Regions from separate parts of the Homo sapiens genome. Here region 1 is linked to region 2. Evidence: fine-mapped expression QTL. A gene starts in region 2. The other region holds a variant in brackets. All regions are shown on one strand. Distances are from middle to middle. Region 1 overlaps TOLLIP (toll interacting protein). Region 2 holds the start of TOLLIP (toll interacting protein).

Region 1 (4,248 bases), 33 kb before region 2:
TGTGAGCTGGCAGACAAGCCTGTCCTTCTGAGTGTGACGACCTCATCCACACCTGACACAGGCGGGGGCGGGGGAGGGTGGGGGTTGTGAACCAGCTAATTCTGGGGACCGCTCGGAGGGGCTCAGCAAGCTGCTTCTACAGTAAGCCACTTCTACAGTAAGCCTTCAAACAGGAAATAAAGCATAAAATGAAGGAAAGAAGAATCTTATTTAATTAAAGGCCTTGCAAAATGTGATTTGTCTATTAAAAAAATAAAGCGCTTGTGAAAAAGAAAACTAAGAGATGGCGGCAAGCGTGGTCATCGGCAAAGGGTTGCTCTCCCTCCAGCGAGGCTGGCCCCCACTGTGTGGGTCCCTCGGGCCCCCACACGGGCTGCTCAAGGGCTGGCAGCAGGGGCCACGTCCTCTCTAGGAGACACCCACAGAGCCACATGTGCACGCGTGTGGCAGTCTCACTGCACCCCAGCAACGCGAAGGCAGAAACCGGTGCTGGTGGCCACACCTGGGCGCCTGGACACCGAAGCCCCCAGCACAGTGAGGCCTCTGAGTGTGGCTTGTGGTCTGTCCTGGGTTAGAGTTGTTAATATCACGGAACATACCATCTAGAACGTTCCAGTCCCGCCTGACACCTTCATTCCCAATGGAGAAGAAATCTACACAGGCGTAAGACCAGGCCATCTGAGACAGGGAATCCCAGGGGCCCCTCCGTCTGAGTGGTCGGCGTCTGCTGAACAAATACCATGTCTTTCTTCTTCAAAGGATCAAAGGCCTTTAGGACCCACAGCTGAAGAAGGCGCCTGCTGCCAGCATGTCCCTCCCCCACGGCCACCACACACTTCAAGTTTACAAAAATAAATATTTATCAACAGTATATTTGACAAAAACCACCCCCAATCGATGGCAGAAAGCAGTATTTTCTAGCTGGCACTGAAACTTAACCTATTTTTTTGAGGGAGAAAAAGACTAAAATGTAAGCACTAACTTCCTCCTTCTGCATCTTCCACAGAAGACCCACTTGTGGGCATTCTCTTTCTGTCCGTTATCAGTGGGTTTACATCCGAAGGCCGGCGGCAAGACACTTGAACCACAAACACCAGACATGCAGGTGTCTCAATGGCATGCAGATTATTTAAAGTGCATCACTTGTGAGAAGCTTCTCAAATTTCTGACTGTCATAACCAGGTGTCACCTAAAATCTGTCCTGTAGGCCAAGATGCTACACGCAGCGCCCAGGCAGTCAGAGGTAAGTGAGCGCCTCCCGCCTCAGAAAGCTTTTACAGGGCCACGCTCGCCAGGCTTTCCTCGCCCACGCTGAACCCACGTCCTGGGCACAGCAGCTCCCAAGCTGTCAGCAGTCGGCTGGCAGTGCCACCACACCCTCTCGGAATCATGCACAGTGCTGCCTCTATCACCTCTCACCCCAGCCTCGCAAGGCCTGTTGAGAAGAGAAGCTCCCTGGGAGGACACCCACGGAGCTGGCACGAGCGCAGCAGGAGAGACGGACGGCAGCCTCCGGCGGGCGAAGGACCCGGCTTCAGATGCCCGCTGGCTGGCAATCAGGCAGAGCCTGGCCAACCGTGCCAGGCCCCCTTCCTCACTCCAGGTGTGGGTTCATTCTGCCTTCAGGCCGGAGTCTGTCACAAGGCTGGCTGGACAGTGGCCAGGTGAGCCAGGCCAGAGGCCGGCCCCACACCATCCACAGGAAGCTGCTCAGCTCACCAGACCCAAGCCCTGGGCAGGGGCCAGGCTCACAGCAAAGCGCGTTAGGGCAAGGGCGTGAGTTTTCGTCTGGGAAGTTCTAAAAAAAACCCACAGTGTGAGGGATTGTGTGTGCCTTAAATCAACAGCTCTATTCCAATTACATCACATCACAAAATGCCATGAATGGAATCGGAAGGCGCTCCACCACCTCCAACACCCTGGCAGAAGCAGCTGCTCTCTACAGCAAGAGCATTTTCCAGAACGGCATGAGAAGGAGAGACGCACGTCCCAGGGACAGGAGAGCGCGCTGAGACCTCCCAGCACGAGATGGGAGGGGAGCCCCCG[C/A]CCCGTCCTGGACCGCCAGGAACCGAAAACCCACATGCACCCAAGAACAGGTGTGGACGGGGCGGCACAGAAGTCCACGGGAGGGGGCGACACGGGTGCTCTTTCACGGGAATCTTGTTGGGACAGCATTCCTTGGGGAGCGCCGGGTCGGCGTGTCCAAAGAGCGGGGGCAAAACGGCATCGAGGCAGAGGCTCTATGGCTCCTCCCCCATCTGCAGCAGGGAGTTGATGGCGGCATCCTTGTTCCCTCGCTGGGCTTCCAGCACGGAGCGGATCACCTCCTGGTCCATGTTGGGGAACATGTCCTGGATGGCTTTCAGGTCCTCCTCGCTACAGCGGGGCTGGGCGTTCACGGCGGCCGGGGGCAGGGCCACGGGCACCATGCCGGGGCTACAGACAGCGGGCATCCCTGGAAGCAAAGATCAAGTTTGGTAAAAACGTCGGAAAGTTCCAGAAGTGCCACACTAGCTCCTGCTGAAGGAAGAAAACAACGCATCCCACCGGCCTCCCTGAGGAAGGGGCCACCTCGGGTCTCAGCAAACACCAGTCCCGCAAGACACCCTGGAAAGGCAAACCCCCAAACAGCAACCCCAGGCACAGCCACGGGGAAGGTGGGCAGGGCCCTCTGTGACGCCTCCTTCACTAACTCATCTTCCTTCCATATAAAAATCAAAGTTTGATCTTTCAAATCTCACCCGAGTCTGTTTTATAACTAGCAGGCTGGGGGTGGTGTTTTGATCCCTTCAGAACTCGTGAATTTGCACTGCACACGCTCGTCTTCACTGACCAGTGGGCTCACAGAGTCCTCTGCATCTGGGGACGGACTACACGGAATGTCACGCCCGCTGATCCAAACACTGCACGGTCTGAGCCTCTTCCTTTATCAGGCATTCTAGAAGATGCTTTTGCAGCTTGGCAAGTGTGTCACTAAACTGTGTGCCGGTGGGGAACAATCACCACAGGCACTGAAGACCTCAGCAAAGCTGCAGCCGATGCCCAGAATGACAACCCCACACACACATACAAACTACACCAAGAAAATGCTCACAAAACTCAAACAAGTGGGGCAGCAGGTGCGGTGTACAGTGGACCCTCAGTGCACTGGGGCCACCGTCCAGGGTTCCTGGCATCTCCACCCCACAGCTACGCAGGCCCCTCGCCCCATGTCTGATGCGGGAGGACACACTGAGATGCAATCTATCGAGCAGGAGACGCACGGCGGTTCAGCCACTGCAGCACACACACCCCTGAAGGCACCGTGTGGCCGGACTTAAGACTCGCCTCCCAGCCTGGTGGCCGCTCCCTAAAACCACGAGCAGCCCTGAGCACAGGCAGCGTGCGCGGGGCTCAGCGACCAGTGAGGCACAGAGCACAGGCAGCGTGCGCGGGGCTCGGCGACCAGCGAGGCACAGAGCTCCTCCTGCAGCAGCAGCTGCAGCAGTGCAAGGGTTCACTGCTCACCCGTTCATTCACCTTTAAAAGCACGAACCATCTCCCAGCTAGGATCACTGGAGCGCTAGAGCCCCAATCTTAGGATAGGACTTTTGTTCCTTTCTACACTTGGAGGATCCTAAAGGCAGCAGAAGCCACTTCAATCCTGGCCTGAACCAACACCAGCAACAAGACCTGCAGGGGTGTAAACGGAGCAGACAGGGCTTGCCACCAAGCCTCCTGCACCTGCTGCAAAGGCCAGGACTCCTCAGCAAGGAAGGCCACCGCTTCCCGGCTCCTTCTAGGCCAGGCCGACTCTTCCTCCACACCCACCCCTGCCTCCTCTGCTTCTCGGCTCTCTCAGGGCCAGGCCCACCTTTCCTCCACACCCACACCTGCCTCTTGTCCTGGCCACTGGACACCTCACCTCACTGGGGAAGCATCATCCCCATGCTCATCAGCCTTTCGGCAATGACGGAAAACGAACCGAACCATGGCCAGGTGGGGACGTGGCCACCCTCACCACCCTTTCTTCTTCCTCAAACAAGACAAAGGCTTGGGCGCTGTCTGTCCTGGAGGGACCCCTGGGATCCCCGTGGCTTTTTGGGCGCCCCGGCTGGCAGGCGGGCAGGAACTTGGCCATCACCTGTCCCTGCCCATACAGCTCCCCACAGCATGGCAACAAGAGGAATGGGGCTCGGCCATCGCCTGTCCCTGCCCACACGTCTCCCCACAGCGTGGCAACATGAGGAACGGAGGCACCGTGCTCCC
Region 2 (4,248 bases):
GCACTTGGCTGCCACGGCAACTTGCGGGGACTCACTGTGGTGGAGTAAAGATGAAGAGGTAGAGACGCTGCCATCAGAGGCCGTCCAGGACCTCTGCCGACCCGTAGGCTCCACACCTGAGTCTCATAAGTGTCAGGAGGTTTCCTTCAAAGTCCTCAGAAAAAGCAGCTATGCCCAAAACCTGGGGCTTCATTCTAAACTCAGAAAAAATGTTCTACCTGAAGAATTATCTCCTCGGGAGAAACACCAGGACTTGTGGATACAGTGTTAAGGGTGGGGAGCCCTGGTGACCCCTCCACCACGTCCAGTACTGGGCTGCGCGAGGGCAGGGACCTTGGAGCATCGTGAAAAAGGACTTTTTCCACCCACGGCATGTTCAGAGCCACTGTTGATAAAAACTGTACCGCTCACGACAGCCTGCCCCAGCCCAGCCTCAGTGAGTGACACGGTTTGAATCTGTGTCCCCGCCAAATCTCACGCTGAATTATGATCCCCAATGTTGGAGGTGGGGCCTGGCAGGGTGGGTGTGTGGGTCACAGGGACAGATCCCTCGTGGCTTGGTGCTGTCCCGGTGATAGTGAGTTCTCACAAGATCTGGTCATTACAGTGTGTGGCACCTCCCCACCCCCAACTCTCTTGCTGCTTTCGCCATGTGACGTGTAAGCTCCCACTTGGCCTTCCGCCATGACTGGGAGCTTCCAGAGGCCTCCCCAGGAGCAGATGCCGGCACCATGCTACCTGTACAGCCTGCAGAACCGGGAGCCAATTAAATCTCTTTTCTTACAAATTACCCAGTCTCGGTATTCCTTTACAGCAATGCAAGAAGGCCCTAACAGTGAGCCAGGAGGCCACTCACGCCAGGAGCCCATCATCTCTGAGTCAGTCTACACCAGCTCTCCTGCAATATTAATGCTATAGAAGAAACTGCCAGGCAACTCTCAGGAGAGAATTCAGAGCAGGAAAGGTTCTCTGAAGTTCCTGGCGCCTATCCTCTCATTTGCAAATGAAGAAACTGAGGTTTTGCACGGTGGCCACTAACCGGGGACACAATTGGGCCCAAGAAGTGGTCACCACTGCCCTCACTCTGTGTAAATGAGAAAGAGGAAACAGCCATCATCTATGGGACCAACTAGAGTGCAGGCCCGCCTCCACCTGGGGGGCCATCAGGGTGCGGGACCCGCCTCCACCTGGGGGGGCCATCAGGGTGCGGGGCCCGCCTCCATCTAGGGTGCCATCAGGGTGCGGGACCCGCCTCCACCTGGGGGGCCATCAGGGAGCAGGGCCCGCATCCATCTAGGGGACCATTAGGGTTCAGGGCCCGCCTCCACCTGGGGGACCATTAGGGTGCGGGGCCCTCCTCCATTCGGGAGTCAGAGCTCGGGGCCGCCTCCATCTGGGCACCGGGCCCTCCTCCATCTGGAGACCATTGGGGAGCGGGGCCTGCCTCCCTCTGGGGCACCATGGGGCACGGGGCCCGCCTCCATCTGGGGCTCACAACGGGCGCAGGCCCCCTCCCCCGGGGCTGCCTCCCCAAAGCTCTGCCCCGGCACGGCGGTGAGCTCAAGCCTCCTGCAGCGTGGGCGCGTCCGTCCGGCCCGCCCCGCCCCGAGGTGTGGACGCCGCCGCTCCCCTCCGGCCGGCCAGGCGCCCCGCGTGCCCCGGGAGAGCCGCGGAGTCGGCCCGCCAGCCGCAGCTGAGCAGTAGCCCTGACCCAAGGCCCCGCCCGCAACCGCAGGTCACCGCCCCCGCCCGACCCTCGCCCGGCTGCCTCACCGGCCCGCGCTGAGTGCTGACGGTGGTCGCCATGGTGCTGCGGCGGCCCCCGTGGCTCGCCGACCCGACAGTGACGCGCCGGGCGACCTCCTGCGCCCCCGCCGGAGCCTGCGACGGAGACAGTTGTCACCTCGAGGCCGCCGCCGCCACAGTCAGCTGACAGCCGCCGCGCCCCGCCCCCGGCACCGCCCCACTGCGCAGGCGCCGCGCCAGGCACCGCCCCTTCCGGCTCTCGCGCGCACGCGCGCTCCAGGGTAGGGCAGGCGCAGCCTCTCGCCCGGCGCCTGCGCACCTGCTCTCTCCTCGAGCCCTGCAGCCCGGCGAAATGGCTCCCGGCGGGGCCGTTTGCGCATGCCCAGTCATGACGGTTGTCGGCGCGGGCCCTAGCGTGGCGGCGCTGCAGTCTGGGCAGTGGGTTGGTTCCTCCTCGGTCCTCTGTCGAGTGGCGACAGGGCCTAGCCACCTGGCGGGGGTGACCTTCGGACGTGCGACCCGCTCGGAGAAGGGAGGGAACTGTGGCCCGCAACAAAGCAGTGACAGGCCCGACATCCCCTGCAGGGCGATCTTTCCCTCAGCTGCCTGCCGGAGGAAGGGCCTTTCTGTTTCACAGGGCTAAAGATGGGGCGCGGTTCCTCCACGGGGCGGCTGCCGGGTGAACGGAACGGGGATGGAGGCGCTGCCAGAAGAGCCCGAGCTCGAGCCCGCCCTGCCCTCGGCCTCCCCGCCGCGCCGCTCCGCAGGAGCCCCGCTCCTCTCCTGCTCGCTCCGGAGAACCCCAGTCCGGCCTGACCTCGGCCCTCGCGGTCAGGCGCTCCAACCAGAGCGACTCCAGCTCGAACAGCGCTGGGTAAACTGAGGCTGAACCCCGCTGGCTGCATCCCCAGGAGTCGGGCGTTTACGGTCACGGGAACAGGTTAATAAACTTTTACGCAGCAGACCCGGAACTTAGGTCCCGATGTCCGGGTATCTTAAGAACAAGAAGCATTCTTAGTTGAAGTTTCGCTTTAAAGATAATGATACAGATGCTTGCGGAGGACAGGCGTTATGCAAAGATTGGCAATCCTTTGACGAGCCCAGGTAGTACAGCACGTCTCCCCCGTGATGTTTTTTGGCTTTTATCTTACATATAAACAAGCGTACCCAGGTGGACGCCTTCCTCCTCGTGCTTTTGGGAACACCCTGCTCTATGGAGTAGCCATTCTTTTATTCCTTCACTGCCTTAATAAACTTGCTTTCACTTTACTCTGTGGACTGGCCTGGAATTCTTTCTTCCACAAGATCCACGAATCCTCTTTTGGGGTCTGGATCAGGACCCTTTTCCGGTAACACAACCACTCCACTAAAAACTCTTTGTCAGTGATCTCTATATTGTTAGTGGTCAGTTCTCAGTCCTCGTCCTCCGGGAACTACAGCAAAATCGATAGTCATTCTTGCTACACATGCTTTCTTCACTCCCCATCCAGGACACCATGTGCTCTCACTTTCCTCTTATCCCAAAGACCACATCTTTGGGTCTCGGTTACCAGTCTCTCCTTTTAAAACCGGCAGCCTGGCCGCTTGCCTGTTTTGATGGGGTGTAGAGAAAAAGAACGAAAGCCCCTTCCTCAAGTTGTAGCTTAACATCCAGCCAATCCACAGCACAAGACCCAAGAAGCTATTAACCACAAGTTCCTGCTTTGGGGGCCTAGGGACTTCCCCGGGCCCCACATGTGCAGTTAGACTTATACTTCAACTATTGTTACCCCTTCCTCATTTTCACGCTAAAAATCACACCTAGGGGTAGAGATTTAAAATGTGAATGTTGCATGCAATGCATGAAGAAGCATGCAAAGCTACTGAGAAGCACTAGACAAACCCCTCCTATCCATGCCTGGACCAATCCCTTCCCTGTGAAACTAACCCACGTGCCACCCCCTGGCGGCGGGGCCCCCCACCGTTTTCCTTTCATGGTGCTGACTTCCTTGTGCACAAGCTAAATAAAGATTTCTCTTTCTCCTCGCTGCTATGTCTGCTGATCTCTCTTTATTTCTATCCTGGGAGATTACAAGATGCCAGGGCACACTGGTAACACTTTGACTCCTTAACATCGGAGTGCCTTACCTCAGGGCTCAGTCCTTGCACATCTTTTCTATCTACATCCTCAGTGAGCTCATCCAGTTCCATTCCTTTAAATGCCATCCATATGCTGATGATCCTAAAATCTGTATCTCCCACCAGGACCTCCGCTAAACACTAGATTCAGCTCTTGCCTTAATATTATTCCCCTATGGGGTGGACAGGTTGTAAGGTAGACATATGATCCCTGCCTCCTGGTGTTCACATCCTTGAATAATCCTCTTGTCTTGAGGGTGGACAGAGCCTGTGGCTTGCTTTTAAACAACAGAATATGGCAGTGGTGATGGGATGTCCCTCCCATGATTACCTGATGTTATAAAAGACTCCATCTTGCTCTCAGACTTATTCTCAAGGGTCTCT

Evidence for each region.
Region 1: its variant is fine-mapped to the expression of TOLLIP in whole blood (INTERVAL, PIP above 0.99).

What each region holds. Positions count from the first base shown.
Region 1 is chr11:1,274,799-1,279,046 of GRCh38, forward strand. It overlaps TOLLIP (toll interacting protein), which reads right to left. Exons shown (of 6, transcript NM_019009.4): 6 at 1-2,455. The coding sequence ends at 2,241. Among named protein-coding and RNA genes, the nearest start is that of MIR6744, 20 kb to the left of the region's middle. The variant C/A (reference allele first, on the strand shown) is at 2,047.
Region 2 is chr11:1,307,693-1,311,940 of GRCh38, forward strand. TOLLIP (toll interacting protein) reads right to left here and starts at 1,940. Exons shown (of 6, transcript NM_019009.4): 1 at 1,774-1,940. The coding sequence starts at 1,806. TOLLIP-DT (TOLLIP divergent transcript) reads left to right here and starts at 2,016. Exons shown (of 1, transcript NR_029409.1): 1 at 2,016-3,015. RefSeq lists silencers at 1,396-2,105, 3,631-3,760 and an enhancer at 2,336-3,097.